Linked DNA regions of Homo sapiens: region 2 is linked to region 1. The links come from fine-mapping of genetic effects on gene expression. Tissue or cell type: lymphoblastoid cells. Region 1 holds a variant in brackets; the other region holds the start of a gene. All regions are shown on one strand. Distances are between the middles of the regions.

Region 1 (15,996 bases):
GGACAGCCATCCCCATAAAAAGTCAAGATCTGGCTGGGCACAGTGGCTCATGCCTGTAATGCCAGCACTTTGGAAGGCTGAGGCAGGAGGATTGCTTGAGGTCAGGGGTTCAAGACCAGCCTGGGCAACATACTAAAACCCAATCTCTACAAAAAATGTTAAAAATTAGCCCAGTGAGGTGGCACACACCTGTAGTTCCAGCTATTTGGGAGGCTGAAGTGGGAGGATTGCTTGAGCCCAGGAGTTTGAGGCTGCAGTGAGCCATGATTGCAACACTGCTCTCCAGCCTGGGCAACAGAGTGAACAGAGTGAGACCCTGATTCAAAAAAAAAAAAAAAAAAAAAAAAAAAAAGCCCAGGCACAGTGACTCACGCCTGTAATCCTAGCACTTTGGGAGGCCAAGGCAGGCAGATCACTTGAGGTCAGGAGTTCGAGACCAGCCTAGCCAAAATGGTGAAACCCTGTCTCTACTAAAAATACAAAAGTTAGCCGGGCATGGTGGTGGGTGCCTGTAATTCCAGCTACTCAGGAGGCTGAGGCAGGAGAATCGCTTGAACCCAGGAGGCAGAGGTTGTGGTGAGCCGAGATCACACCATTGCACTCCAGCCTGGGAGACAGGGTGAGTCTCCATCTCAGAAAAAAAGAGAGTGTCAAGATCCCCTTGCCTGCTTTCTAGTCTTGCACTCATTGACTGAAGTAGGGCCAGGCCAATGGGATGAAAACCTACAGCACCATGACAAGTGTGTATAATCATTTCCTGTCCTTCTGTAAAGGGAGCTATGGCTGTTCACTCAGACAACTGAACACTGGGGAAATGGGAATGCCCAACTATTTTGAGGATGATTGTACAGAAGACCCAAATTGATGTTAATACCCAGGGATCCCGAATGTCATTATGTCCCCACTGCTACCTTGATGGAGCAGGGCATGTAGAGGCCAGTTAATAAGTGGAGTCCTGGCACAGGTCTGGGCTACAGGAGTCCACAGGACCCACAGACCCACCCCGTAGTCATCTTCGCTGTCCCTGGGTGTATAATTGGCATGGACATATTTCATAACTGGCACAACTCTCATGTTGGTTCATGGGCCTGTGGATCGGCTATCAGGGCAGGAAAAGCCAAGCTGAACCCTCAGAAACTGCCCATCCCCAGTGAAAGGAGCAAGTCAGAAACAGTATTGCATTTGGGAGGATGGCAGAGATGAGTGCCACCCTTCAAAACCTAAAGGACTTGGAATTAATAGTCCTCTATCAAATCTCCATGTCACCCACCAGTCACTCCCCAGAAGAACAAGACAGGTCTTGGAAGACAGCAGTGAACAACTGCAAACTCTGCCAAGGCACTCCCCAAGTGCAGCTGCAGTGCCAGATGTGGCATCTTGCAGAAGCAGATTAACAATACAGCCATTGATCCTCTTTTCTATGCCTAAAGGATTAGAAACAATACACATTCCTTTGGATCAGACAAGATTGCACACGTACGGTTCTGCCACAGAGCCATGATGTCTCTTCTATCCTCTATGATCATATAGCCTGGGGAGGCCTGGACATTGGACACCTGCAGAAACTCACACTGGCCCACTGTGCTGATGACTGCTTGCTAATTAGAGCAGATAGGCAAGATATGGCAAGTATGTTGGATGCTATAGTAAGACCCATGCACTCTATGAGGTGGGAGATAAATTCCATGATAATTTAGAGGCCACCACATCAATAAAAGTTATAAGATCCAGCAGTCTGGGAATGCCAGGACATCCCTCCAAAGTTAAAGACACATTACTGCTTCTTACACCTCCCGCCATGAAGGAGGCATAGCACCTGAGAAGCCATGGAGACAACATCCTTCATACCTAGCCATATAGTATTATGGTATTTCCTAGGACTGCTGTAACCAATCACCACAAACGGGGGGCTTAAAGCAACAGACACCTGCTCTCCCATGGTTGTGGAGGCCAGAAGTCTAAAATCAAGGTGTTGGCAAGGCCATGGTCTCTCCAAATGCTCTAGGGAAGGATCCTTCCGTTCAGCTTCTAGAGGCTCCTGGCATTTCTTGGTTTGTAGAAGCAGCACTCCAATCTCTGCCCCCATCTTCATGTGACCTTTCCCTTGTGTATTTCTGTATGTTTCAGATCTCCCTTTCCCATCTTCATGTGACCTTTTCCTTGTGTATTTCTATATGTTTCAGGTCTCCCTTTCCTTTTTCTTATAAAGGCATTTGTCATTATATTAGGACCCACCCTACATCCAGAATGATCTCATCTCAAGATTCATAATTTAATGACATCTGTAAAGACTATTTTAGGGTCACATTCACAGGTACTAGAGGTTAGGACTTGGATACCTCTTTTGCATGGAGCGGACAGTTTAATCCATTATACCAAGAAAAGCAAAGGGATGTCAGCTTTGAGTGGAGTGAGATCAAGATGTGGAACAAGGAAGTGTCACTTAGCCATACAACCTTGCAGACTCTGTGGTATGGGGGTATCTGTGGGGAAAGATGCTACATAGAATATATGACAAGCCCCAGTAGGAGAATTCCAACATAGTCCCAAGGGCTTTAGACCAGGGCCGTGCCACCCGAAGAGGAGAATTATACACGTCATGGAAAACAACTCCCAGTAAGCTAGGAGACCCTGGTAGAGTGCCAAAGTTGTGTCACCAAGTGACCCTAAAGCCAGAACTGCCCATCATAGCTAAGTTCTCTCAGATCCCCCCAGGTTGTAAGGTTGGATGGGCCCAGCCAAGTCATCCATCATAACATGAGAGTGTGCAAGGCTGGAGGCATGGGGGAGCCACTTGGGCAGGTGCCCAGACCCCAGGCCGCCCACTGGGTGGCAGCAGTGCCTCTCCCTCAAGCACCTCTAGACCCTTATGGGGAGGGGTCCTTCCTGGCCAGCTCAAGAAGGAGGAGCAATGCTGAGATATGATCACACAGTGCATGAGTGTGAGCCAGAAATGAACTCCAGCTGCTCTACAGGGCTCTACAGCCCCTCTCAGGGCTGGCATCGAGAGACGGTGCCACTAGGTGAGCCACCAAGGCCAGCAAAGGTGCCCGGTGAGCATGGGGAATCCTGGAATGGGGAACACCTGTTGTTGCTTTCCCACCCTTTGCAGTGGCTGGGGCTGTGGTTTGTCCTTTTACACATTTCCCCCCAGGAAATCAAGCCCACCAGGCTCATGGAAATGCTGCCTTCAGATGTCTGGGAAGAAGTAAGGCCCAGCCATGCAAGGCTTGCCCTTGGCTGATGACATTCAGGGCTGGTGGTCCTTTGTTGTGGAGGGCCAGCTGTGCATTGGAGGGTGCTCAGCAGCCTCTCAGGCCTCTACCCACTGGAAGCCCTCCCCAAGTCATGACAACCCAAAATGCCCACAGACATTGCCAAATGTCCCCAGGAAGCAGAATCACCCCGGCTGAGAACCACTGCACCAGGCTGGAGGGCCGCCTTGCTGGGAAGCACACCTCCTTCCTGCCAACCTGCCTCTGGTCACTGAGCCCCAGCCACCCCGAGGGCCCTGCCAGCCTGCATGGGGGCCCAGGCACTCTTTGTGTGACTGCATCACCCAACCTGTACCTTGGCCAATGCTTGAGGACTCCCTGAGGATTCTCATACACAAACCCCCATGTCAGAGTCAGCCTCCTGAGAACTCTGGAAGCGTTGCTCATCTTCCCCTCTTCCAGAATCGGCCTTAACTGAAATAACCAAGTTTGTCCTTGCTCATCTTCATGAGTTTATTCAGTAACAACTTTTAACAATCACTGTGTGTTTGCTGTCCACACGGTGCTGAGCCCGGGACACAACAAAGACAAGACGGACTTAGGTCCAGGGCCGGCTGCTTGATTTGCAGGGCCCTTAAAAAATTGCTAAGAATTTAAAGACAGGCTTATTTCAAGAATTTCATGGTGGCTCATGCCTGTAATCCCAGCACTTTGGAAGGCTGAGGCAGGTGCATCACCTGAGGTCAGGAGTTTGAGACCAGCCTGGTCAATATGGTGAAACCCTATCTCTACTAAAAATACAAAAATCAGCCAGGTGTGGTGGCAGATGCCTGTAATCTCAGCTACTCAGAAGGCTGAGGCAGGAGAATCACTTGAACCTGGGAGGTGGAGATTGCAGTGAGCCAAGATAGCGCCACTGCACTCCAGCCTGGGTGACAGAGCGACACTCCACCTCAAAAAAAAAAAAAAAAAAAAAAAAATTCAAGACAGCAACAGCAGAGCATTAAATCCAGTGAGGGTCCCTTCAGGGACCCTGTGCGGCTGCACAGATTCTTTGCCCATGATGCCAGCCTGCATAGGTCATGTTTTCATGAGACAAGTATTAAACCATTAATTACACACACAACTGTTTTATTGCAACTGTGAGAAGTGTTATGTTGGAGAGATGCAGGCTCCATGTAAGCCAGTGAGAGAGTTACACCCTTATGGGTGGGAGGGGTTGTGGGAGAGAGAGGGATTAGGGGCCACGGAGACCACAGCCCCTCACCCCAATTCCTCATCACCTGACCTGCCTGCCTGACAATTGGCAAGCAGTGTTTTTTTATTTGAGACCACTCAGTCTCTCCAGTCAAAGAAAATGGACCACAGACATATGGCTTCCTCTAGATGCTATACCGCACTTCCTCCACGTAGAAACAGCTCCGGGGGAAAAAAATCATTAAAAGAAAAAAAAATGCTGTTAAAATAAAGTGAATGGAAACATAAGGAGGTCCTTTACTGCTTTAAGAAAATAAAGCCAGATCCAAAATATTCTGAGACACACATTAGAGAATTAGAGGGGATCAAAAAGTCCACACAAGGGCCAGTTATACGTCAGGTTCGGAGACTGATTTAATTCTACACTTAGAGCAAGGAGACCACAGTTCTATTCTCAGTACTCTCTTCTAATTCTGAGAAAGTCACTTCACCTTTCTGTTCTTTGTCTGAATATGAACAAAAAAAAGTGGGTCTGTCATTTTGGATTTCATGAGCATTATAATATTAGGATGATTCTTTGAGGACGCTTTGAACTAACTCTTGTGGAAGCACAAACACTGTATTTATTCAAAGAGAAGGCAACCTAAGTTTAGTGTCCACTGCCCAGCCACACACAGCCACAGGTTGTGTGTGTGTGTGTGTGTGTGTGTGTGTGTGTGTGTGTGTGTGCGCGCGCTGGGGGTCACCGGACCTTCCTCAGTGCCCATGCGCTCCCTTTGGGCAGGGCCTATCTGAGCCAAGTGCTGGGGAGAGGAGCTAGCTTTTGGTGGCCTCTGTGTCTGAAGGCCTCGTCCATGGGTAGGATTGGTCCTGACATTTATTTTTGTTTTCTCTTAAGTGGAAATATTTTAAGCCATTCTTTTGTCCTGGTGATCATTTTTACTTGTCTTACAGACCTGGGCAGCCACACAGGCACACAGCAGCAATGGTGGCATGGGTGACATGACCGCAACAGGAGTGGCGCCGTGTGTGGCTGACTGCAGGGCCCCCTGCAGGTGGGCCTGCCCCTCACTGCTCCTGCCCTGTGTCCAACGCCAGCACTGTTCAACCTCCCCACGCTCATGGTCACACCCATCTCTTCTGTGTGTGGTGCATGAGGCAACAAAGTCATGGGAGATTGGGGAGAACTATGAAAAGGAAGGTTCTTTGATGGTTCAGTGACACAAAATAACTTTGCAGGGTTGAGAGGATCACAGTTCCATGTTAGTCAGAAAGGGTGGGAATAAGCTTCCGGGAGACTGAACTCACTAATATCATAAGCAAAAGTGTGTGCACATACAATGGATGGGTGTATGGGTTTCTTCTGAGGACAGAGTATTTAATATTTACCAAATTTTACCCCAGAAATGCCCAAACACTTCTTCTGCAGCATCTCTATTGAGTGGCCTTGCAAACAAGAAATAATTGCCTCTTGTGGGGCCTCCTACATTAGTCAGGGTGTTCTGGAGAAGCAGAACGGATAGGATTGCTTGCTCTCTCTCTCTCTCTCTCTCTGTGTCTAATCTATCTATCCATTGAGAAAGAAATTTTATTTTAAGGAATTGGCTCACACAGTTGTGGGGCCCTGCAAGTCTGAAGTTTGTCAGGCAGGCAGGCTGGCAATTCAGTTAGGAGATTGATGTTGCAGCGGTCAGACTGAATTCCTTCCAGAAACCTCAGCCTTTCCTCCTAAGTCCTTCAGCTGATTGGATAATGCCCACCCACATCATGGAGGGTCATCTGCTTTCCTCAGTCTACTGATTCAAATCTTAATCACGTCTAACAGATGCCTTCACAGCAACATTTAGACTGGTATTGACCAAACAACTGGGTACTACGGCCTGGCCGAGTTGACACATGTAATTCACCATTGTACTACCCCATCTTGGGAAAGCTCTAGATGTCCTTAACTGCAATGAATAATTCCTATAATGACACCACCAGTTGACAGTTGGAAATGCTCTTTAATTAGCTCATGGTTCTCATGCTTACCCAAGGTCATGGCGTCCTTTCTTATATGGCCACATCCCAGCAAAGTCAGCAGTCACTTCTGGTGAATGATTTGATGAGCACGAAAAGGCAACATCCACCCCAACTCCCCCCAAAATATTTCTCCTTTTCTCTTCCAGAAACCTTAACATACTACATCACTCACTTTGGGGGTTAAATTGTGAACCGCAGAAGTCTAAGCTGGTGGACATTGCTCCGGCAACGTGAGGGAGTAGGTGAAGCTGATTTTTTCAGAGCCAGTGGTAGTCATTGGTGCTGTTGCTCTCACTTCCAGTGCAGAGCAGGTTTGTGCCTCACCCTCTGTGAGTTAACTATGGCCACAGGCCTGCTTTGGCAATGGAGGTGAGGATGTGGTGTGTGTTGCTTCTGGGCAGAAGCTGTGAGTGTCAGGCCACTATTCTTTACATCCTGTCCATGGCCAATGATAACTGTAGGAGCCTCGTCTGCCTGGGACCCTGGGGGACTTTGATGAGCACAGCCTGTCTGTAATCCAGATAAGACATGGAGCGTGAGTGAGAAATTGTGCTTGTTACTGCAGCATACCCTGGGCCAACCTGGCTACACCAAGCTGTGTGTGGCTTTCACAGCATACACCTCCCCATCTTCATTGTGAGCAATCGAGACACAGGGCTGAGCTACTAGAACCCTCTGGCTCCTTAGGTTTCTCAGCACCACAGGGTTGCATCTCACTGAGGCCTGGAGAGATGTCTTACCTTCTTCCCTCATTCTTCTTCATGTTAGCCATGTCCTCTATTGCTTTGGTCTGAAGGTTTGCATCCCCCAGGATTCACCTGTTGAAATCCTAGCCTCCCAGGTGATAGTCTTAGAAGGTGGGGCCTTTAGGAGGTGATTAGAGAGGAGCCCTCATGATGGAATTAGTGCCCTTACCAAGAGAACCCAGAGAGCTCTTTATCTCTCTTTCTGCCTTTGAGGATACAACAAGAAGATGGCCATCTGCAAACTAGAAAGAGGGCCCTCGCCAGGTACAGGATCTGTCAGCACCTCGATCTTGGACTTCCCAGCCTCTAGCACTGTGAGAAATAAATTCCTGTTGTCTATAAGCCACTCATTCTATGGTGATTTGTTACAGCAACCTGAACAGACTGAGATGTCTATGAACACAGAGGCAGAAATAAGCCTTCACATTTTGAAAATTATATTATGAAAAAGAATTATGTATAACTCTGTGGTAATAAAATGGGAAATTGAAATGCAATTGAATTGAGAAGAAAGAAATATAGAAAATTAGAACAGACCAATACCATGGAAGAAATTGAGAAAAGATGTCAAATAAATTGCTTCAAAAAGTTCTATAAACCACTTTTTTTATGCGCAAGTTCTTTTAAGCTTTTAGGGAATAATAATAATGAATAATTTAAAAACATGTAGAAATAGGAAAGTCACATCAGGTAATTTTACTGGCAGAAGGAGCAAAAAAGAAAAGAATCTATAAGTAAATCTAAACTTTGAATATCAATGCATAAACTCACGCTTAAGTAGGGTTTATTCTAGAACTTAAGGCTGATTAATGGCAGCAAATCAATCTGTGTCTCTGATCAAAGCAGATGAACACAGGATGCCCCCATTAAGGGTCTTAGCAGATAGACTGTAGGCATTTGGTAAAAGTCAACATCCTTTCAGAATGAAAACTTTCAGAAAGCCAAAACTGGATACTTCTTTAATATGATAAAGAATATTTCAAACCAACAGCCAACATCATACTTGATGGTGTCAGTTAGAGCCAATTCTATCAAAGTTAAGAAGAGGAGGCTCATGCTGACCACTCCTATTTACTGTTGTCAAGAAGCAACAGGGTGAAGACAGAGGAGTAAATATTGGTGAAGTGACAGAAAATTGTCCTCAGGGATAAGGAAATTCAGAGCTATTCACAGATACTAACAAATGAGTCGAACATTGCCTAAAATATTTTAGGACAATTAGCTCTTGTAATGAGGCATCTAGCAGCAGAGAGTTATGAAAAAGAAATATGTTGAAAATGTTAAACAGAACTGCAAAATGTTCACAATAGCTTTAAAAATGTGAACTGTCTACAAATTAAACTTATTTTAAGAGGAATATAGAAGGTATTTATTTAGAAAAAAGCCTTAAAAACTTTATTTTATGTTATTTTATGAGACTGAGTCTCACTTTGTCACCCAGGCTGGAGTGCAGCGGCGCGATCTCGGCTCACTGCAACCTCCACCTCCCAGGTTCAAGTGATTCTCCTGCCTCAGCCTCCTGAGTAGCTGGGATTACAGGCATCCACCACTGTGCC[C/G]GGGCAATTGTTGTATTTTTAGTAGAGACAGGGTTTCACCATGTTGGTCAGGCTGGTCTCGAACTCCTGACCTCAGGTGATCTGCCCACCTTGGCCTCCCAAAGTGCTGAGATTACAGACGTGAGCCACTGTGCCTGGCCAAGAACTTTATTAAGATTAAAAAAAAAAAAAGGCAATAAAATGGAAAGGCAGATCATGTTGCTGAGTGAGAAGATATAGTACATCCATGTAAATTATCCTCAAATGGAACGTAAAGTGTTAATGCAATCTCCATCACAACCCCAATATTTTCTTTAACTTTAAAAAGTGATTACAAATTTAAACTTGAGGAATAATTTGGGAGGAATAACTAAGAAAAATTAATAACAATACCTGAAAATGATGATGAGTGTATTTTTATTATTACATATTAATGTGTATTTTGCTACATAGTTAAAACAGGTTTCTGTTAATGTAAAAAGAGACAGAGCAGATTTAGAAAGATCATTCAAAAATCCAGAAACAGGCACAAGTGCATATCATTATTTAATATAAGATAACTTTGGCGCTTCGTATAAACAAGGAAAGGAAAGATTATTAAATGTACCAGGAAACCTACTTACCTATCTGGAAAAAATTAAGCTTTTTACCTTACTCCAAATATCAAAATAAATTCCAGATGGATTAAAGAGATAAAGTGTTAAAAATGAGACCTTACAAGTAGTAGAAGAAATTTAGCTAAATATTTATATAATTTGGGTGTTTGAACGGCCCTTTCTAAAAACAACATTGAAGTCGGGGATTGTAAACTAAATTACCAGTATCTCTGACTGCATGTGATAAATTCCATAAATCTCCTGAGCAAAATGAAATGTCACTTCACAAAGCAGAAAAATACCTGCCATATGTATTCCAGATACAGAACCAGCGTCCTTAAATATAAAGAGCTATTGCAAGCAGTATGTAAAAGACAGATTCTTTGGCCAACAATTCACTTCCTGAAGTTCATCCCAAGGAAATAAGCCCGGAGGTGGTCACCACAGAGCTTGCCCTTTTAAACTCCCTGTAGAGTTGATCGGAGAATCCACCTTTCCCAGGAGAGAGCTTCAGCAAGACCAGAGTGAGGGGGAGTCAGGGGTGCTGATGATGGTCTACTGGAAAGGATCTTTTGGGGGCAACATTGTACACCTCCGGTTGCTGGAGAAAAGGGGACACTGGGGAACTAAAAGAAGGCATCATGTAAATGGGGTGTCATGCTTGGAGGGATGTCAGAATCTAAGGACAAAGACTCCCACTTTGGGGGCCCAATAAAAAATGGCAACACTCAGCCAGAGTGGCATAAAAGGCTGCAAAGAATCCTTGAAACAACCTTATGACTTATGAGTAGTTAGTGTCACCTCTTTTGTTTTTGTTTTTATTTATTTGTTTATTTTTGAGACGGAGTCTCACTCTGTTGCCCAGGCTAGAGTGCAGTGGCATGATCTCGGCTCACTGCAACCTGTGCCTCCTGGCTTCCAGTGATTCTCCCACATCAGCCTGGCGCTAAGCCAGGCCCTGGGAATGCAGCAGTGAACCAGGGAACATAGACCCGTCCGCTAGGAGCTCTCAGATGTTCACCAATGAGCACCACAATAATGGTATAATTACGCCTGTGGCACCTGCCGTGAAGGGAATTCCGGGGAGCCACATGGGCATGTGGCAGGGGTCCCAAGTGCATTCAGTTAGCTCCCACCAGGGTGATACATTTATTCAAGGACACAGATTGGGCTGGACACGGTGGCTCACGCCTGTAATCCCAGCACTTTGGGAGGCAGAGGCAGGCGGATCACGAGGTCAGGAGATGGAGACCATCCTGGCTAACACCGTGAAACCCCGTCTCTACTAAAAATACAAAAAATTAGCCGGGCGTGGTGGGGGGCGCCTGTAGTCCCAGCTACTCTGGAGGCTGAGGCAGGAGAATGGTGTGAACCCAGGAGGCGGAGCTTGCAGTGAGCCGAGATCGCACCACTGCGCTCCAGCCTGGGCAACAGAGCGAGACTCTGTCTCAAAAAAAAAAAAAAAAAAATTACACAGATTGCCCTCATATCACCTGCTGTTTTATGTAGCTGGCCCAATTGGGACCAATAATTCTGATTTCTCCATCTTGTCTCTCTAGAAGGAAGTCCCTTCCCATAGCCAGCCACTGCCATGCATGTGGAGTGACGGCAGAGGCCCATGTGGCCTGTGTGCACTGTGATGTTCTCTGCATCAACATGGACAGAACGTGTGGGAAAAGTAAGAAAAAGAATGCAATGTACACCATAATGCCCTTTATGTAAATTAAAGCACATACACATACAAAACAGCCCAATATGTTATGTAAAAAAATCCATGATTATTTGGTTATTTGAGGACTTGTATAAAACACCTTACACTGGGTCTGGGGGTAGAAGCAGGGGGATAGCCAGGAAATCAGGGGTAAAAGGGAAAACAATACAGCAGGAGAGGAGCCTTGAACAGATTATACTGATAAATGCAATTGATTAAATCTGTCTGTGAGGTCCCCAAAGTAAACAGAAGCAAGAAATCATTTGGCAAAGCAAATAGCCTCTTGTACTGTACAGAGGGTGATCTTTAAATGCTGGCCCTAAGCTTAAGGCAGAGAAGTTTCATGATGGGAAACCAGGTCAGGAAAGATAGAAGCAGAATGGAGGAGAAAAGAAAGAAAGAAAGAGAAGAAGAAAGAAAGAAGGAAGGAAGGAAGGAGGGAGGGAAGGAGAGGCAAAGAGAAAGAGAGAGACACAAAGAGAAGAGAGAAGAAAGGAAGAAAGAAGAAAGAAAGAAAGGAAGAAAGAAAGAAAGAAAGAAAGAAAGAAAGAAAGAAAGAAAGAAAGAAAGAAAGAAAAGAAAAGAAGAAAATACACAGAGAGGCAGAGAAACAGTAGGAAAGAGGGAAGGAGGAAGGAAGGAAGGAGGGAAGGAATGAAGGAAGGGAGGGAGGGAGGGAAGGAGGGAAGGGAAGGGAAGGGAAGGAAGGAAGGGAAGGAAGGAAGATGACCAACCTAAGTGAACTCTGGGAACAACGGTGAATGTTTGTGTTTATATAAACATGTTACTTTAAGATGGTTGACTCCTTACAGACAAAGGCCATATTTTCATCACTTCCTATAAAACCTCTCTACAATACCCAACAAAGTGAGAGGTCCTTGGTGTTCCCAAAGCATTTAAGAGATAACAACAGTAATGTCCATGTGAGATCCTCGCGCTGGTGTGTGGTTTCTGAAGTGCATCCTGCAATGTGAAATGGTAGCTGCTATTCGGTGTTGATAACCTCAGTTCACTGTGGATCCCATCCGACAACGCGTGAAGTCAAGAAAAGCCAACTGTGACCCCACTGAGGGGGAAGCATCTAGTCTCTGCTTCCTGAACAGACTGTTCCAAAAACGGGGCTGTTGTTTCAGTTACTTACAGTAATAAAACCACCGCGACCCCATATCCATCTTTCCACATTCCCCACCTCCCATCCTACCCAAGGTCATGAATATCAAACTTGGAAAGGAAAAGAATGAAGGACGTCTCCCCCAGCAATTAAAATTAAGTCCTTTTTCTTGCCTCCAACTAAAATCTTGGACGTGATGGCAGTTGCATTTAGCGGGATCCCAAATGCTGCTTTTATATGCCAGCATTCCATTCGGGGGGCTGATTTGTAGGTTTAAAAATATGCAATGTATGAAAGAGAGGCTCATTTATTTATTTCCTCCCTTGACTGACCTTGGGCCTTGATTTATCTCAAAACCAAGAGAATTTTCCTCTTGGTAAAGGAGGACTAATTCTTTCAGTGAGTCCTTGATAGTTTCTGCCATCAAAAACAAACCATAAGCTGAATGTACAGAAATGCCCTGCATTTAAGAAAGATGACATGGGGAGTAGTAAAAGCAGGAGGAAGAGAAGTGTGAGAAGAAAAAGAAGCAGGGAAAATCAGGGGGAAAGTGATGTTGAACAAATCATGCACATTTCAAGATTTTTAAAAAAGCAATGCGTTTGGGGATGGATAGCTGTCACCCTTGCCACCTTGGAGGAAAGTTTTGCTGGCTAACTGGCTATTGTCAAGCAGGCCGGGCTGGTGGCCTCGGCGGGCTGGCTGACCTTCCCCTGACTCCAAGAGGAAAGAAATAGTGAGGCTCTGTGTCCTGCGAGTCGGGCCTTCCTGTGACCTGAGTGCAACGTCTCAGCCCCTCTCCGACAACCCTCCAGCAAAGCTTGCTGGAGCTCTTGGTTTATTTTTTCAGGTGAGTGAACGCCGTATCAAATACTGGTTTCTCAGTTGCTTTTAATTAGGCTTCTGGGTTCCACTCTTTCATCTCGCCTGAAATCTGCATCACTTTTCTCCAGCTATTTCAGGTTCTAAAGCCACGGGTTTGCTTTCATTCAGCTAATTGAAGGCACACAGGAAAGGAGAAGGGGGATAATCCCAATCATTGGACATTTTTTAGGGCTGTGATAAACCACACATTTTTTAGCAACAGAAAACCACTTTCAAAACGTTAACTCTGCGGCCTCTGCTCAGGGGCTGGAGGGCCTACCCCTGAGGCTTCAAGGTTCATGTCATGTGGGATTCTCTGAGACTCCTCGATGCAGGTAGAGAGCAGGAGGGCAGGTGAGATGCCGTGATGTGACGGAACAGGCCCCATCACTGTCCCTTTCTGGTGTCGAGCTACTGGGAACATCGCTGTTGAACTGTGTATCTGCAAAGCTCTGGGGTGGAGGCCCAGCCACACACAACATCGGAGAACAGAGCTGATGCTGATGTCCCCTGAAGTGTCAGCCAGCAGCCAGGTGCTTGCTTAATCCCAGAAAGGGCAGTATATATTTTTCAGTAAAATTTTATTAAATCCTAATAGCAGATCTTTTTTTGTGGAGCAAAAAACTCTTGAAAACTATATTCATGAGGTATGTATAATTTGTTGGTTTTACCAAGGCTTTTTAGTAAACAAGCTTTAGATCTTGCCAGAGTATTCAAAATAGGTTTATGTAGAGCAAATATTTAAATTTATCTGTTATTCTATTTTTATAATTAATGAATAGGATTATAGGCATTTAATAAAACTTCTACAAAATAGAGCAGGGTGGGGGGGTGAATCCTACTTATTTGCTACCAAAAGAATCAAAATAACATTTATATTTATATCTCAATATATGGTTCTTCAAGTCATTTCAGGAGATGAAACAGTATGTGTTACCAACGGCTTTTAATTATAAAAACAAAGTGTTTAAATGGATCCAACACAGTCAGTTGGCAATACATCTAAATTCCATGTTATAGTGGCCTTTGTAAGGCAACAAATGGGGAAAGTACTTGTTAATTCATACAACGTCAAAGAATACCTGATACCTAAATAGCTCCCACAGTCAATTGAAAAAAGACCAACTATTGGGAAAATGACACTTTCCAGACAAGATCACAGAAGTTTAGATAGGTGAGAAGATACTCAGCCTCACTCATGATAATTAAAATGCAAATTAAACTATACTGAGATTTCATTTTCCAACTCCCAGGTTGTTTAAAAAAAAAAAACAAACCTAACAGGTTAATATGCTGGTGGCAATGGAGTAGAGGAAAGACATTTATTAAAAGCTGAAGGGCCCAGCACTTTGGGAGGCCAAGGCGGGCTCATGATGAGGTCAAGAGATCGAGACTATCCTATCTAACATGGTGAAATCCCACCTCTACTAAAAATACAAAAATTAGCTGAGCGTGGTGGTGCACACCTGTAGTCCCAGCTACTTGGGAAGCTGAGACAGGAGAATCGCTTGAACCCGGGAGGTGGAGGTTGCAGTGAGCCGAGATCATGCCACTGCACTCCAGCCTGGCAACAGAATGAAACTCCATCTCAAAAAAAAAAAAAAAAAAAAAAAGCTGATGGGAACATATATTGGTTTCAATTTCTATGGGAATTTGGCAATACCTACTAAAATTATAAATGCAAATGCCCTTTGACCCAAACTTCTTTTTCCAAAAATTTATTCGACAAATACATTCACCTAGAGGAAAAGTTCCTCTATGTCCCCACTTTCCATACTGTGCTCTTTGGAAGGAAGTCATTATCTGCAGCCCACATTTATGGGGTGGGGAGTTAATACTCCCCATCCTTGAGGGCAGAGTATCTACAGAAATTATTTGAAATTTTCTGCACAGAACATTTGTCTCTTTTCTTCAATTCATTTATTTTTTCAATCATTTGTTGATATCCGTATGAGTTCGTGGTTATTTATTTTATACTTTGAGTTATCATCCAAAGCTACTTTATTTACTTAGCTGAGTTTTTGATTAAACGGAATGATTGTTTTGGCATCCAGTAAAAATTGGCTTAGAACCCAGAGCTCATCACACAGCTCTGTGACCTAGTAGTCTCTTTGTATGTGCTCATGGAGTACCCATGTCTCTAGTCGTTTATTGGTTTGTCAAGGGTGTACCATGTGCCCTTTACTGTGCTAGGGGTACAGCAGTGAATGGAAGAGACTGCCTGCCTGCCTGCCCATGGGAATTATCAACCTAATGTCTGACTGATTTACTGTATATGTAGCATGGCACTAGAAAATCTGGGGCAACAGCAGGGGCAATATTATTCCTTTGGAATGATAGTAGTCATCTGGGCAGGCTAGAGGGACACCCAGACTCACACAAGACTAGAGAGAAAATAGGCGTAGAATAAATATAAGCCAAAACACCAACACCTGTCTGGTGTGCTGAAGGATGAGGTGAATCAAAGACAGATTTCTTGAGATGGCATGGAATAGACGCTCTTATAAAAGTTTTGTTAAAAGGAACTAGGCAATCATTGGAAGGATGGGGTCAGATGTAGATTTTCCTATGCAGCATTTAAAAAAATAGAACAGACAGACTATCCATAAAACGCAGGAAGAGGAGGAGGCCATAGGAGACTGAGGCTGTAGCTGAGAGGTCACCCATAGAGCAGACACTTCCAGCCACAGGAGGGGCAGAGGGTTTAGTTTTGGAGAGAGGATGAATGTGGAGAAAAGTAAAACACTCAACATTCAATGTAAAAGGGAATATGTATTGTTAGGCTCTCTGAGAGGCGAAATAGACCATGAATTCTTAACAGCTTCTTGTGTGTTGGAAAGACCTATGAAAAGTTTCATTAAGTTTTGGGGAAAAGCAGGTAGGGTAACTCCATAAATCTAATGTCGAGCTGCTGTGGTGTTTCTTTGAATGGTGAAAGATACATTTTTTCCCTTTAGTTTGCCAAATTTTACTGCCCACACTCTTACCATTGCTGCCGG
Region 2 (15,996 bases), 160 kb after region 1:
AGATAGGATACTTCCATAAAAAAAAAAAAACTAGGGTTATTGGTTATGTGTCAATTTCATAGTTAGGGAAAAAGGGACAGATCCGGGCACAGTAGATGCAATAGGATCTGAATTTTAACTAAAGAAAGATGCACTGTCAATACATAGCAGATGAATGATAATACAGAGATCCATAGCTAAATAGATAAGATTGCTATACCAAATATGGTTTGTGCTTTCCTGGAGTTATCCATTTTTCTAAAATAAACATATATTTCCTTCTTAATGTAAAAAGGTTGCCAAAATAAATTTCCCAGCCTAGTGGGAAAGTCATGGGCATTGGAGACACACAGCCTAGGCTTGAGTTCAAGCTCTACTAGCTGTGTTGACTCAAGAGCTGCTCAGTCTTCCCGAAACTCAGTGCTTCCTATTTGTTAAGTGAGGATAACAACATTTACCTTATGGGGTTGTTGAGGGGTAAACAATGAGATAAAAATGGTTGATGCATTAGAGAAACTTAATAAATAATAGCCTTTATGGTTATCATTGGTAATATTATTGTTATTCATGTTATCAGATCTCCTAAGAAATAAAAGATTATTTGGCTGAAAAATTTAGAGCCAAGATTCTAAAGACGAAAAATATTCTGGAGTAGCTCAGTTTTCTTAATCAACAGTGTAACATCACTTACTGTTATTGTATACCAGGGCCTTAACAACTATGAAATGAAGTCACAGTAATTTATAATATTTTTTCTTTTATCAGGACATATATATTACATATATATTACATATGTATATATGAAATACATATTTTTGATAATATAAATAACAAAAATGTTATAAGTATACATGACATATAATATGTAAGATATATAACAATAAAAGATATATGTATCTTTTATTGAAAGATATACATATGGAAAGTATATAAAACCATACACTATTTAATAAATAATTATAAAAGCAATACTCATAAAGCCACCACCAGGTCAAGAATCCCCAAATTCAAAAATCCCATCCTTTTGTCCTTCCCAAGCTAACCACTAATCTAAATCTTTTCAATAATTTCCTTGATTTTCCTTGCAATTTTACCATTTACATGTGCACTCTAAATATATAGCTTCGTTTTGGCAGTTTTAGTTTGTTTGAATGTATTCATACTGTTTGTATTATTTTCTTAGTTTTTTTCCCAGTTAAAACTGTCTGTAACCCATCATATTGTTGTATATAGTGTGTATAGATGTCTTTAGTTTTCATTATTATATAATATTTTGTTGTATGAATATTACAAAATGTATGTGTTTATTCACTGATGGAGACATTTGGCTGTTTTCCATTTAGGGCTGCTATGAACACCAATGTGCACACATGAAGTACACACACTTAAATGTATACACAAGTTTACACTCCCACCAGCACTATAAGAATTCTCCTGTTGCTCTATAGCTTTAAAAACACTTAGTTTTTGCTAATCTATTGGGTGTGCAATAGCATATCATTTATAAATTTAAATTTCATTTCTCTTACTAAAGAGTTGAAGGGTTTCTCTTTTGTTGTTATTTTTAGAGACAGGTCTTACTCTGTCACCCAGGCTGGAGTGCTGTGGCACAATTATAGCTCACTGTGGCCTTGAATTCCTGGCCTCAAGTGATCCTCTCGAGTAGTGAGGACCACTGGTGCACAATACCACGCCAAGCTAATTGTTTAAAAAATTTTTGTAGAGATGGAGGTCTCACTTTTTTGCCCAGGTTGGTCTTGAACTCCTGGGTTCAAGTGATCCTCCTGCCTTGGCCTCGCAAACTGCTGGGATTACAGACATGAACCACTGTGCCCAGCTAAGATGTTCTCAAATACATATTTGGTCACTTGGTCTCTGTTTTTCATGAAGTACATATTTATGTTCTTTACTCACTTTTAATTACATTTTCTCCTATTTTCTTATCATTATGTAGGACTTATTCTACATCCTACACACTGTGCTTGACAGTAATGTGTGTTTAAGATGTCTTCTCCCTTTCTGTTCCTTGTATTTTCACTCTTGTAGTATCTTCTGCTAAATAAATAGATGTTCATTTTCATGTAGTAAGATGTATTAATCTTTTCCTTTTACGGTTAGTGCATTATTTTTTAAAAAATAAACCTTTCCCCTCATCAATGATGTTTTTACCATTCAACATGATAATGGTGCTGGTTTGAGGGCAAAAACAAAAATCATCATGTTAAGAAGATAACTTTCTCTATTTTACTAGAGATTTTTAAAAATCAATGATTGAAGTAGACTTTTGTCAAATGTCCTTTCACATTCCACTTTATAAGATACAGAGAACTGATCTTTCCAATAATTTGACAATACAGTTGGCCCTCCATTTCCACATGTTCTGCACCTTCTCATCCAACCAACAGTGGATCAAAAATTTGGGAAAAAATAAGAAACAGCAGTACAATTAATAAAAAATAGGACAAATAAAAAACCAATACAGTATAATAGCTATTTATATAGCATTTACATTGTATTAGGTATCACAAGTAATCTAGAGATGATTTAAAATATATGAGCATATGTGCATAGGTTACAAAAAATAATACAAATAAAAAAGCAATACAGTATAATAACTACTTATATAGCATTTACATTGTATTAGGTATCATAAGTAATCTAGAGATGACTTAAAATATATGGGAGTATGTGCATAGTTTTATAAGTTTTATTATAAAGGAGACACATGGGTGAGGGGCAGGAGGGTCCCAGACATGGAGCTTCCAAGCCCTCTCCTTGTAGAATCCAGGCACACCACCCTCCCAGCACATCATCATGTTCACAACCAGGAAGCTCCACTGAGTTTCTATGTCCAGAGTTTTTATTGAGGTTTCATTGTGTAGGCATGATTGATTAAATTGTTGGCCAAGCAATCAAATTCAATTTCTAGCCCCTGAGATTGAGCTGGTCCCAAGTTCCAACCTTAGGGAGCCACTAGGAGTTGCTTCATTAGCATTATATAGGCACTCCTAGCACTCAGGAAATCCCACGGGATTCTGAAGATCTCTGCCAGGAGCCAGGGAGAAAGGCTGTATATACTCCTTTTTATACTATGAATATCAATGGAAAATCACCTAAAACTAATAAGAGTTCACAAAAAGGCCAAGTATGAAATAAATTAACAAAAAATCAATGCATTTCTTTCATACCAATAAAGGGCAGTAAGAAAATAGAGTAAATAAAAGGTTCTACTTACAATAGTAAGGAAATATATAAAATGTGTTAGAATAAACAATACGAAATGTGGCATAGATTCCAGAAGATGTAGTGGAAAGTCAAGAAGAGAGAGGAACATGAGTTTGGGTTAGGGGGCAGTAATCAGAGTAGGAAGAATAGATAACCATACGACTAACTTTTAAGATGCTGACTAAAGATGGCAGGGATGTGAGTCATGTGGGATTAACTGGACTCAACTGTCCAGCATACCTTAGGTATGAACATGAAGGTGCGCAAGATCATGCCCAAAGGTTCACTAGTAGTAGATGGCTTATAAAATACCTGCTCATAGGCACTGCAGCCAGGCTGACTCTACTTGTCGTTACTGACAGGTCTATTTGAGTCACCACCGAATCTATCCTCCCCATTCTGACTGTGGGGAAGGAAGACAGAGAAGATAGTTACACACTTAAAAGTAAACCACCGAGGCCAGCTGCAGACAATTAAACAGTGAGGTATTAAAGGAGAAAATGGAAGCCTAGGTTTCTGCTTTACATTGATTTCATTTCCTGGGACCTTATACTATACGAGTTTAAATTTATTTGTATTTATGCTGATCTGAAAAGAAAGTTTAAATTTGATTGGCAAAGCAATCTAAGAGGAGGGGTGATTTTTGAAGTACGTTTTTTTCATTTATTTTTCTACCATCACCACCTAGTGGAGAAAACCTTGAACTTCAGACAGAGGGGACTAGGGTTCAGGAAAAAATATTACTACAGGACCTACTGGGTGCCAGGCACTTTACTAAATACTTTCACATTGACAAGTTCACTTAATTCTCATGACAGACCGTGAGGTAGGCATTCTTATTCCTCCTTTAGATTTGGAAACTGAGTGTGAGAAGTTATGTAGCTTGCCCAAGGTCACACTATGGACAGCTCAAAACCCAGGTTCTTGAAGTCAAGGTCTAGAGTCATTTTCACCTCATAGGTCATCCAAATAGCTCAACTTCATCCATGTATGTAGCTGTGGGAGACATGCACACACACACACAATCTTTGCTTTGTATTTTTCCTTTTTATTATTTACATAATATAGGATAGAAAAGCACAAGTAGAAAAAGGAAATGGCATTATACTATATACATTAGGTTTTGTTTTTATTTTTTGAGACGGATTCTCGCTCTGTCGCCAGGCTGGAATGCAGTGTTGTGATTTCGGCTCACTGCAACCTCCACCTCCTAGATTCAAGTAATTCTCCTGCCTCAGCCTTGCAAGTAGCTGGGACTACAGGCTCGCACCGCCACACCCAGCTAATGTTTGTATTTTTAGTAGACAGGGTTTCACCATGTTGGCCACGATGGTCCCCAACTCCTGTCCTTTTGTGATTCGCCCGCCTCAGCCTCCCAAACTGCTGGGATTACCGGAGTTTATATTAATTCTATCTCTCTTAATTTTTACTCCCATAGTACACAAGTTTCCCATGACAATACTTTTGAAAACCCTATTAACAATAAAGTTGGACGTAAAATTAGGTCTATATGCAACTCTACTGTCTAATCTTGAAACACGTCCTAAGAGACTTAAGGTACCAAAATACTAACAATGATTACAAGTAGACTTGTAGATTTTCCACAGCATTATTTTCTGAAAAAAGAAATTTTAGGCCTTATATTAAGAGATTCAAGAAATTTGTTTCCATTTTAAAATTTTTTGGATGGGTTAATTGATCATGTGGCCACGTTATCTCTATAAATGTTTAAAATCAGTGTACTGTATTTCCACATTTAGTAACACTTTTCTTGAAAACCTTGCTTTGAGATCAGCCCTAAAACTTGTTTTGCAAGTATTCACTTCTGTGATGCTCCTGCAATAATCCTTATGTGCTCGCAGTCAATGAGTTTTTACTCTCATTAACTTGATGAATAAACGCATAGACCCTCACGGAAACTGTTAACAGTTCTTAAACACAGTGCAGAGTTTCTTCTTTCTGGTAGCTTCCTGATCTCGCCGGCTCAGAAATCAACTGGCAGACCTTCCCGGAGACCGTTAGAGGTCTTAGGTCAGCATCTCTTAAGTTAGCCGTTCCTGCCAGTGGGTTCAGTGGGTTTGTGGTCTGACTGCCTTCAGAAATAAAGCTACAAGTCTCCACAGTGAGTATTACCACTCATTAAGACAATTCAGACCCAAACACCAGCTAATGCAAAAAATAAAAGAACAAAACACCCACACAAGCAAAAGAAAGCCAAGCGGGTCTCCATCGCCAGCTCTAGCAGCCTGCTTTTATTCTCTCATCTGGCCCCACCCACAACCTGCTGATTGGTCCATTTTACAGAGAGCCCATTGGTCTGTTTTACGGAGAGCTGATTGGTCTGATTTGACAGGGTGCTGATTGGTGTGTTTACAAACCTTGAGCTAGATACAGAGTGCCGATTGGTGTATTTACAATCCCTTAGCTAGACATAAAGGTTCTCCAAGTCCCCACCAGACTCAGAAACCCAGTTGGCTTCTCCCATTAATTTCTGAACTGGGGCTGCAGTATAGAGTTGCTTGCTAGTCCCACGTAATGAGCCTGCATTGCTCAGCTCTGGGGTGGTGAACGGCCCTGGGTGCCGTGAGGCAGTAAGCAGCGCTTCTCAGGGAGGCTTGGGCCGCGCAGGAGTCCCCAGTTGGGGGGAGGCTCAGGCATGGCAGGCCTGAGCCTTGCGCTGCGTGGAGGCAACTACGGCCTGGCGAGAAGTGCTGTCCCAAGTGCTAAGCTCCTCACCGTCCTGGGCCGGTGGTGCAGGCCGCTCCGAGCGCGAGGCTTATCTGAGCCTACTCCCACCCGGAACTCGCGCTGGCCCGCAAGCACCGCGCGCAGCCCCGGTTCCCGCCCGCGCCTCTCCCACCATACTTCCCCACAAGCTGAGGGAGCCAGCTCCGGCCTTGGCCCGCCCAGGAAAGAGCTCCCATAGTACAGCGGCAGGCTGAAGGGTTTCGCAACCACGGCCGGAGTGGACGCCAAGGCAGAGGAGGCGCTGAGAGCGAGCGAGGACTGAGAGGGCTGCCAGAATGCTGTCACCTCTCACTGCTGAGGGACAAATGAAAAAAAAAAGCTCACGGTCGGGCGCAGTGGCTCATGCCTGTAATCCCAGCACTTTGGGAGACCGAGGTGGGCGGATCACCTGAGGTCGGGAGTTCGAGGAAGAAACCCCGTCTGTACTAAAAATCCAAAAAAATTACCTGGGTGTGGTGGCGGACGCCCGTAATTCCAGCTACTCGAGAGGCTGAGACAGCAGAATCACTGGAACCCGGGAGGCGGAGGTTGCCGTGAGCTGAGATTGCGCCATTGCACTCCAGCCTGGACAAGAGTGAAACTGCGTCTCAAAAAAATAATGAAAGCTCACGATCCTCTTTTGGTAGTTTCACGTTACATGATGATTAAAGTTTAACTTGTTTCTCTAGCGTTTCTATTAATCTTATTTTTGAGCCTAACTTTTTTAGTTAGAAACAACTCTTAACCAGCCAGCCAGGCGTGGTGGCTCAGCCTGTAACCCCAGGACGACTCCAAAGGCTAAGGCGGAAGGGTCCCGGGCGCCCAGGAGTTCAAGGCTGTGAGCTCTGGTCGCGGCCCTGCACTCCAGCCTGGGCGACAGAACGAGTGAGACCCTCAATGTGCTCTTGCCCAGATGAAATAAAAATTCAAGTTTTGGCCAAATTTCGGAAAAGTCTTCATTCTCCCTCAATTCATTTACCTCTTCTAGTTACCAAAAATGCCTGTTTTGAGATACATGTTTTAAAACGGGAGACTTAGACAAAAGCAAAAAATAACATGGTAATTCATTCAAAGATGCAGACTACCACACTTGTTTTAATCTGATATTCTTTCCATTTCTATCCGTCTAGGACGTAATTGCACACGGGCGCCTCCCATCATTTGGTTGCTAAGGAGACAGAAGGCTGGTGTTTCCGATTTGCCACTATTACACAGCGGCCCGCGAGAAGCATCTCTTGGCTCGAAGCGCGCTGTAGGTGAACCGCCCTTGACTTAAACGCCAACACATCTAAAAGGGGGCGAGGGACGCTTTATTTTCATTTCCCTGACCACTACTGAGGTGAGCATTTCTTTCACTCGCGTACTTGTTTGTATTTTTTCTGCTGTTCACGTCCAATAGAACACTGGTTTTCTATTGGAGGCTTTTGGGTTTTTTCCCCCATTTCCCTTTCGTTACAAACGACCCGCTGCGGCCGCCTCCTGCTTGTCCCCACAGGCCCATTCAACAGCCCAGCACGGAAGGCCGGGAAAGCGGCGCTCGCCGCTCCAACAACCTCGCGCAGTCCGTGGCTCCTCCCTGCCCTCGCGCGACTCGCAGGCCTGGGCGGAGGGCTGCGTCCGCCACCGCGCAACCTCGCGCACGCGCACCACGCTCGCCTCGCAACCCCCCCCCCCGCCCCTCCCCCGCCCCCGCAAAGGCTGTTCTCAGAGTCGGAAATGGACGCACGGCAGCTGGGGCGAATGGCCGCGGACTACACTTCCCGAAGTGCCGCGCGAGGTATTCTCGGCGGTGATTGGGGCAAACGGCCACGGACTACACTTACTTACATGCCGCGCGAGGCGCCTCCGCCGCCGGGGCAAACGGCCACGAACTACACTTCCCGACACGCCGCGTGAGGCGCTGCCAGCGGCCGGCCGAGGGCGGGCGGACGCGGGAGCTGCGGACGTGAGGCATGAGCGGCGCCCTCCTCCGGCCCGCGAGCGTCCTGCTGGTTCCCCGAGCGAGGGTCTCGCGGCGCGGGGCCTAGCGGAGGGCATCGAAGGCCTCCGCGTGCGCACGGGTTGCTGCGGCCGCGCCGGGCGCCGGGGAGGGCGGCGGCCGCCATGGAGGTGAGCGGGCCGGAAGACGACCCCTTCCTTTCGCAGCTGCACCAGGTGCAGTGCCCCGTGTGCCAGCAGATGATGCCCGCCGCGCACATCAACTCGCACCTGGACCGCTGTCTGCTGCTCCACCCGGCGGGGCACGCGGAGCCCGCGGCCGGGTCGCACCGCGCCGGGGAGCGGGCCAAGGGGCCCTCGCCGCCCGGCGCCAAGAGGCGGCGGCTGTCGGAGAGCTCGGCGCTGAAGCAGCCAGCCACCCCGACGGCAGCCGAGAGCAGCGAGGGCGAGGGTGAGGAGGGCGACGACGGCGGCGAGACCGAGAGCCGCGAGAGCTACGACGCGCCGCCCACACCCAGCGGCGCCCGCCTTATCCCCGACTTCCCGGTGGCCCGCTCCAGCAGCCCCGGGAGGAAGGGGTCGGGGAAGAGGCCGGCGGCCGCCGCCGCGGCGGGGAGCGCGTCTCCGCGCAGCTGGGACGAGGCGGAGGCGCAGGAGGAGGAGGAGGCCGTGGGCGACGGCGATGGCGACGGGGACGCGGACGCGGACGGCGAGGACGACCCGGGGCACTGGGACGCGGACGCTGCCGAAGCCGCCACCGCCTTCGGGGCCAGTGGCGGGGGCCGCCCGCACCCCCGGGCGCTGGCTGCCGAGGAGATCCGACAGATGCTACAGGGCAAGCCGCTGGCCGACACGATGCGTCCTGACACGCTGCAGGATTACTTCGGGCAGAGCAAGGCCGTGGGCCAGGATACCCTGCTGCGCTCGCTCCTGGAGACCAACGAAATCCCCTCGCTTATCCTGTGGGGGCCGCCGGGCTGCGGCAAGGTGAGTGCGGCCTTGGCCGTTGGGCTTCCGTAGTTATCTCGGCGGTGGATGCAGCTGATGGTCGGAGAGCCGGGTGTGCTGCCCTCGAAAGAAGCCGCCTGCCTCTCCTGGATAAGGGGGTGCAGACTTGGGCTGGGCTGGGGCAGTGCCTGGTCCACAGGTGGAGTCTGTGATGGGTGTGAAAAGGGCACACACCCCCAGATTGGTAAGGCAGGCTTGCCGGGTTTGCAAAAGGACGATGTCTGTGAATCCATAGTTTTACAAGATGTGGACTCTTAGATTTGATCTGCCTTTATCTTCCATCGGTCTCCCCGCCCCCTCCCCAGACTTTGATTTAGTAACCGAATTCGCAAGGAATCAGCATGTTTAAATTGTAAAGAAACATTTGTATATTCCGTTTGTACATAATAACGGATTCAGCTTTGAAAAAAATCAAATTAATTCTGTTGTGCTTCCTTCCTTTTCCACTAGTTGTTGGTTTAACAGACTGGTATTTATTCTTAAGAATAAGTTTATTTAACATTCTTATATTCTTGAGAATATATTGATTTTACTAAATATACTCATGTATTTACAAAACTAACATAAAAACTTTTTCATCTGCAAGTCATTTTCATCCGGTATTTCCGTAACTTTTCTCATAATGCCTTGTACTCTAGAGAAGAAACATCCGTGCATTTTGGTGTCCAGTTCTGTGTCCCTTCGTGAGGCGTTAGCGTTCCAGATGAGGGCAGTTAGGATATTGTGAGTCTAGAAAGCATGTCATTGGAAAAACACTTGAGAAAAAAATGGAGGAGGTGAGCCAGAAAACAGAGAAAGCTAAGAAGTGCTTAAATACAGGATGCTTTTATCCATAATAAGGGAGAAGAACCAGCATCAGGAAGGGAAAGGGAGAATTCAGGGATCAAACTGTAAAGAGTTCTTGTAGCTTTGAGATTCAGACTCGTTTGCACACAAGGCTTTTATGATTTTTCTCCTATTTTTCTTTCTAGCTTTATCTCCCACAACTTAAGCACACCCCCTTTAACTCCAGTTCCTGGAATGAATTGCCCTTTTTGTGCCTTCTTGTTTGCACTCATGCCTTCCCTTTGGCCAGGAATAAACCACATCTATCCCAAATAACATCTTATGATGATGGTGGTCGAGTTGTTGACGTCTGTCCCCATGGATTTAGTTGTTAACCCCATTTAAGGGATTGAGCAGTATCATTCTTAGTAATTGTGAAGTCTTTACATAAGATCATGAGAATGGATAATCAGCTGTTGGTGGCCCCAGACAGCAAGAAGGTCCTTAGGGAGACGAGTGGGTGAGCTCATCCCACCTACCAAATGCCAGGCAAGAGGTTTGGGTGGTCCAGGCTGCTCAGTGAGATGGGCGTTGGTCATTTGCAAGCCTAGGCATCTGTGACTTGCGAGCCTGATTCCAAAAGGCAGGCAGGCGGGGATTTCTGAAAGAAGCAGCCACAGAATGGGTGCTCTACAACTTTTAGAAAAGAAAGTACCACCTTTCCATTTAGGTGCAGATTTGTCACAGTCATTAAACAGTCTTCAGTTTTTCTTCTCATCCTTTAGTACTAATAACAACATTCATATTAATAACAGCATATACATATTTGTTGAGGACCCAAGAAGTGCTTTACCTGGGTCTCCTTGGTTTTCTAGTAATTGCTAATGTGACCACAGTGCTGCCCTTCATCTCCTACCAGAGTGAACATGCAGAAGTGGCCTACAGTCATCTCAAATGCTAGGTGGATGTCATTGGTCTCAAGGCAAATGCTCCCTCACTCTCCTTTTCTCAGCTGTCCTGAGCTTCCAGTTCGGGCTGTGGTTCTGCGATGAGTTCTGCACCTAGATCCTTCCGTGCTGTCTCGGCTAGAGGAGGGAGAATTTTCTCTTTGGTGAGAGGTCACAGCTGTCACTCTGCTAAATCAAGACAGCCGTTCTTTACTGGGATTCCAAAGATCTTAAAGAGTCACCCAAAAAGGAATCAAAGGTGGTTAGGGACAGAGGAGAAAAGGTCAGGATTAGCCTAAGGTTTAGCTACTTTCCTGTTTTATTTATAATATTTTTGTTGTTGTTGTTTTTAAATGTCCTGTGGTATTTTTGATTGTTTCTGTGCTGCTCAGCATTCTTCCGAGGTCAAGTTGCTTTTGGTAAATAGTGATGCTGCGTGTGGTGGTTCCCATGGGTGCTGGTCTCTCTGTGTCTTACCAGCTTTTCAAACTCCATGTATGTCATCTTTTCTAGACCACTCTGGCTCACATCATAGCCAGCAACAGCAAGAAACATAGCATAAGGTTTGTGACATTATCTGCAACAAATGCCAAGACAAATGATGTGCGAGATGTCATAAAACAAGCTCAAAATGAAAAGAGCTTTTTCAAAAGGAAAACCATCCTTTTTATTGATGAGATTCATCGGTTCAATAAATCTCAGCAGGTATATTAACTTCCTTCTACCTTTTGGTCGTTGTGAACATCAAACAATATAAAGTGTGTGAGATCACTATACAAACGCTAGAGACTTACGAGCTTTGTTTACAAAGAAGCGTAGGCTTGTGAACCCATCTCCTTCAAGCCTATTTCTCCATACATTTCTTAGTGTTTTTTGATAACAAGAAAATGCTTTCTCTATCTGATAAATGAAATGGTTGGCATATCCCTGAGCTATACGTATCAGAAAAGCACCTTTGAATCAAATTTCCAGTTTTAGGAATTTTTAATCTAAATACTAGGAGTCATTGTGAACAGTAAAATAATGATTTTAAGGTCATTATTTTAATGGGTTTTTAAAAATTACTTTAACAGTATTTTTATTTTGAAAATTAAACAATCGGTATTTTCTGTAACTCCAGGCTCTGTCTTCAAGGTGAATGTTGGAAGAGCTAATGATTACTGTTTATTTAAATGGGTTTCTGAAATAAAAGGACACAAGCTATTTTTATAAACAAAGCCACTTAGGGATTTAAAAAAAAATAAACATTAAAATTTTATTGGGCTGAGATCTGAGAGCTATACTCTAAATAAAAAAAAATTAAATTTTTAGGCATAACTTTAAAAAATTTTTTTTTGTAACTTTTTAATCATACATAGAATATTTCACAAAACTCTACTGAGCCTTTTTTGAACCTTTTTGAATAAAAAGACCCTTTTAAAGTTCTGACGAGGCGTTAGCATTCTAGGTTTCATATTGGACCACTGACTCATCTTAGTATTTTTTCCCCATAAAACAGCATAATAGGAATAATAATAATATGATTGAGTGCTTGCTGTGGAAGAAGATTCTGGAAGTGTTAATGTTTTTGTGTGTTCTTGTCTATAAATAAATAGCTGTTACATATAAGCTATGTGCCAGTTCAGCCTTTGGTAGAAGATGGTTTTCTGAGTAAAGAAATCATTTATGTTGAAACTAAGCTAGAATTCTACTTAAAGCTATTAGTCTACCAGCAAGAGATCAGGCTTGGACGGGCATTCCAGAAGATGTGTTTCAGACTTAAAAGCAAGAGTTGTACTCCCCCAAATATTGCATCTATATTCAGTGAATATAAGGCTGCTGCTATTCCTGAACTCGAAAGATAAAAATGAGGAAAAGGAAGGAAGGGATAGCCAACTTACATAGGATTCTGCAGGTGGCTGTTGACTGGAATCACTTTTTTCTGTTTTCCTCCCATGATTAGGACACTTTCCTTCCTCACGTGGAATGTGGGACGATCACTCTGATTGGGGCAACCACTGAAAACCCTTCCTTCCAGGTCAACGCTGCTCTTCTGAGCCGCTGTCGAGTGATTGTTCTTGAGAAGCTTCCAGTAGAGGCAATGGTGACTATTTTAATGCGAGCGATCAACTCCCTGGGAATCCACGTCCTAGACTCTAGCCGTCCCACTGACCCTCTGAGCCACAGCAGCAACAGCAGCTCAGAGTAAGTTGACAGTGTGCAGCGTCCTGGGGGCACACACCTCCCAGAGAGTCTCCTGGCAGGGGGCCAGAAAGGGCCGGGCGTCAGTGAGGAGAGGGTGGGGACAGAGAAGAAATGTTGATCCGCCCGTAATGAAAATAAAAGAGGAGGGAAATGTTCGATTATACCTAACAAAGTTATCCCTGCACACTTGAAGATGCATTTTCCAGCCTCTAATATGTGTTTCTATAATTCTTCAAGCTTTAACTTTGCTTTGTTGTTTTGGTTCTTGGGTGTTTGCTTTTGTGCTTAGGCTTCTATGGGAAGCCTTATTGATGATTTGAAAGGCTTTATGTCCCTCATTGAATAGAACAAATAGATAGATAAATACTTTCTAGACTTACCATACAACTCTTTTGAGCATTGTACTCATGTTTCAATTTCTTTTTAACCTGCAGTTTAGCATTTTGTTAAAAAAAAAAAATCAAGTAAAAATTAACTTGTAACCTTAAAATTATGTAATCCTTTTTGTGTAGTTGAAACTCAGTTTCATGAAAGTAAAGGAATGTTAACTGAATATGACATTATAGGCTGTCCCTATCCTTTTAGTGACCTATTTCTGCATCATGAGTACCACATGAGCTCGTTAATGCACCAAGTGTATATCATAGATAATTTGATTTCTTGGGTCAGGGGTTTTCCTTTTTTTTAATATTAGAACATATTCTTCAGATGGTATTTGTTCATACGTTGGCTGAAATACTGCCATGGAACATAATCTGGTGTGATGAGAGGCTATTGCCCACCTCCTCCTGCTGTGGACTCTGCAGCTGCTCGTGCCTGCCCTGAGGCCAAGTTCTGGAGCCACTTTTCTGTGAGGATTAAAGTACAAGGCATAGTTTAGGCTCAGGGTTTAGGTTTCACCAGGCTCTCCCTATGTGTCTGGCCCCATTTGCTCCTGTCTGAGATGGAGGGAGAATTCTGCTGTGTCTAATGAAAGCATTGAAACATTTGGCCCGTGGACCACTGGGTAGGACAGAGTGGCCTTGTTTTGGAATACCGTTGTGATGGGGATAGCCATTACATCTGTGGCCACAAGCAGTGTGTGGAACCTGTGGTATCAGCCACATGGACTCATACTCAGAAGTGCTTTATGTGGTGGGCATTTGTCAGAGCCTAAGGGGGCTGCCAGCTCCTCATATGTAGTACAGGTTGAGTATCCCAAATCTGAAATCCAAAATGCTCCCAAATCTAAAGCTTTTTGAGCACCTTCATGATGCTGTGAAAGGAAATGCTTATTGGAGCACTTCAGATTTCTGGATTTTGGGTGCTCATCTGGTAAGTATATAATGCAAATATTCTAAAATCAAAAAAATAGGAAATTCAGACCACTTCTGGTCCCAGGCACTTCAGATGTGGGATACTCATGTGTAGGTTTCCCGTAACAGAATTCTCATTACAGACGCATAGAACCACATGGTAAAGACAAATTGAAAGAAAAGGGGGGAAATCCTAACATGTTTCATGTTTCTGTGTGTTCTTTGCTCTGTGTACTGGTTATCGTAATGTATCTGCAACTTAATATTCTGCATGTGTACTTGTCTGGGGTGATTTTTATTGATTTCATGTCATCAGTTCATGAAATAGAACATGAAATCAATAATTAATATTGATGACATGAAGTCAATAATAATCAGTTGTTACTCAGATACCCTCAGGTTTTTTCACCTCTCCCCAGTCACTGCCGTGCAGGAATTTAAAGGAAATGAGAAAGGCGGCAGCCAAGGAGCTCATCCTTGTGAGAAGAATTTCTATATTTTATTATTAAAAATCCTCAGGTGATTTGCAGGCACATTAAAGTTTGAGAAGATCAAGTGAAATAATTAAGATTTAGTTATTGAAACTGATATAACAATGAGCTAGAGATTGTTTATCTGCTAAAATTGCTTTTCAGAGAAAACTTCCCATATCCAGTAAATGATTTACTATTTCCACTACCGCTTGCTTAGACTTGATCCCAATTATATTTGCTATCTTGTGTCCCCCGCTTTCCTGGGAAGACTGTGAGGACAGGAGCTTGTCCCTGTTCATATCCCCAGCACAGTGCCTGGCACACATTATGTGCTTTGTGAATGGTTTGGAAATGAATAAATCCTAGCTTTCGATATGAGAAAAGTAGTTTAATATGTTTTGCATTATCCAGCATAAGGGATAATTACCCAGGTATCAAGAGCCTTTTTCTTTAATACTATTGCCCTTTTCATCAGCAGCAAGCAGAGTAAAATGAAAGAATGTTAAGCTTAAAACCATTAATTGGTCAACTTGTTAGCAATTCTAACAAGAAGTTAAGTTAGGAGATATCATAGGCCACAGAAAGAACTCTTACAAGTGATTTCCGAATACAAGTACCTGCCACCCCAACTGTCAGGGATAATTAAGAGTGGATTGGGATGTCTTTTAGTTGTTTTAGGTAAAATTTTGCTTTCCAATCCCTGTTGACAGCTCTATATACATCCTTGTGCATATAAATCAGATTTGGTGACACTAATCTAGTTGAAAGAAAAGACTTCCAACCCCATATACTTACTTTCTCTCTCCAGGAAGCTATTGGTGTGCATTTGTATTCTTGTGTCATGTTTTGGTGCCCTAGATAGCAACTAGAACATTTACAGAGAAGTCCCAGGCTGTTGAACTGCACGTGAGAGGAGGTGAGCAGGGCACTGGATTTGGAAACTAATCAAGCTGCCGCTTAGCCGTTCTTGATTGCACTTGAGGAATTGTGAGTTGTCACACAGTATACTCATGTAAGTGATAAATTCCCATTAAAGTGAAATAAGTGTTCTTTTTTTAAAAAAAAATTCCCTCCTGTAGTTATTATTCAGTCAAAATTGAAGCTCCTGCATATGCTAGGCATTGGCTGAGGGTTGAAAAGCTTGTTCCTGTGCCTTCAGAGGGAGCGCAGTATGATGAAGGCTAGGGGAGCAGGTCCACTTCCAGTGCCACGCTTATACGCCAAGTGCAGTGGGCGTAGAGAAGCAGCATTCAGAATATGTGAAATCCAGTATTTCACCTCCTAGATGAGGGGATGCGGAGTTGAGTTTTGAAGGATAAGCAGAATTTAACTGAGTGAAATAGAAAGCTCATTGTCTACGCCATAGTTGCTTTGGTTTGTATGGCTAAGCAGTAGTGTTCAGGTATTTTGCTCTCCCAAAAATATTTGGATCACATGATACAAACAGTGAAGATT

Evidence for each region.
Region 2: it holds the start of WRNIP1, and the variant in region 1 is fine-mapped to the expression of WRNIP1 in lymphoblastoid cells (GEUVADIS, PIP 0.92).

The regions. Positions count from the first base shown.
Region 1 is chr6:2,593,618-2,609,613 of GRCh38, forward strand. No RefSeq gene overlaps it. Among named protein-coding and RNA genes, the nearest start is that of LINC02521, 33 kb to the right of the region's middle. The variant C/G (reference allele first, on the strand shown) is at 8,737.
Region 2 is chr6:2,757,589-2,773,584 of GRCh38, forward strand. WRNIP1 (WRN helicase interacting protein 1) reads left to right here and starts at 7,805. Exons shown (of 7, transcript NM_020135.3): 1 at 7,805-8,856; 2 at 11,103-11,294; 3 at 12,532-12,773. The coding sequence starts at 8,035. It also overlaps a transcript of MYLK4 not described here. RefSeq lists enhancers at 6,370-7,249, 7,347-7,641 and silencers at 7,096-7,185, 7,566-7,615, 7,776-8,235, 8,406-8,725.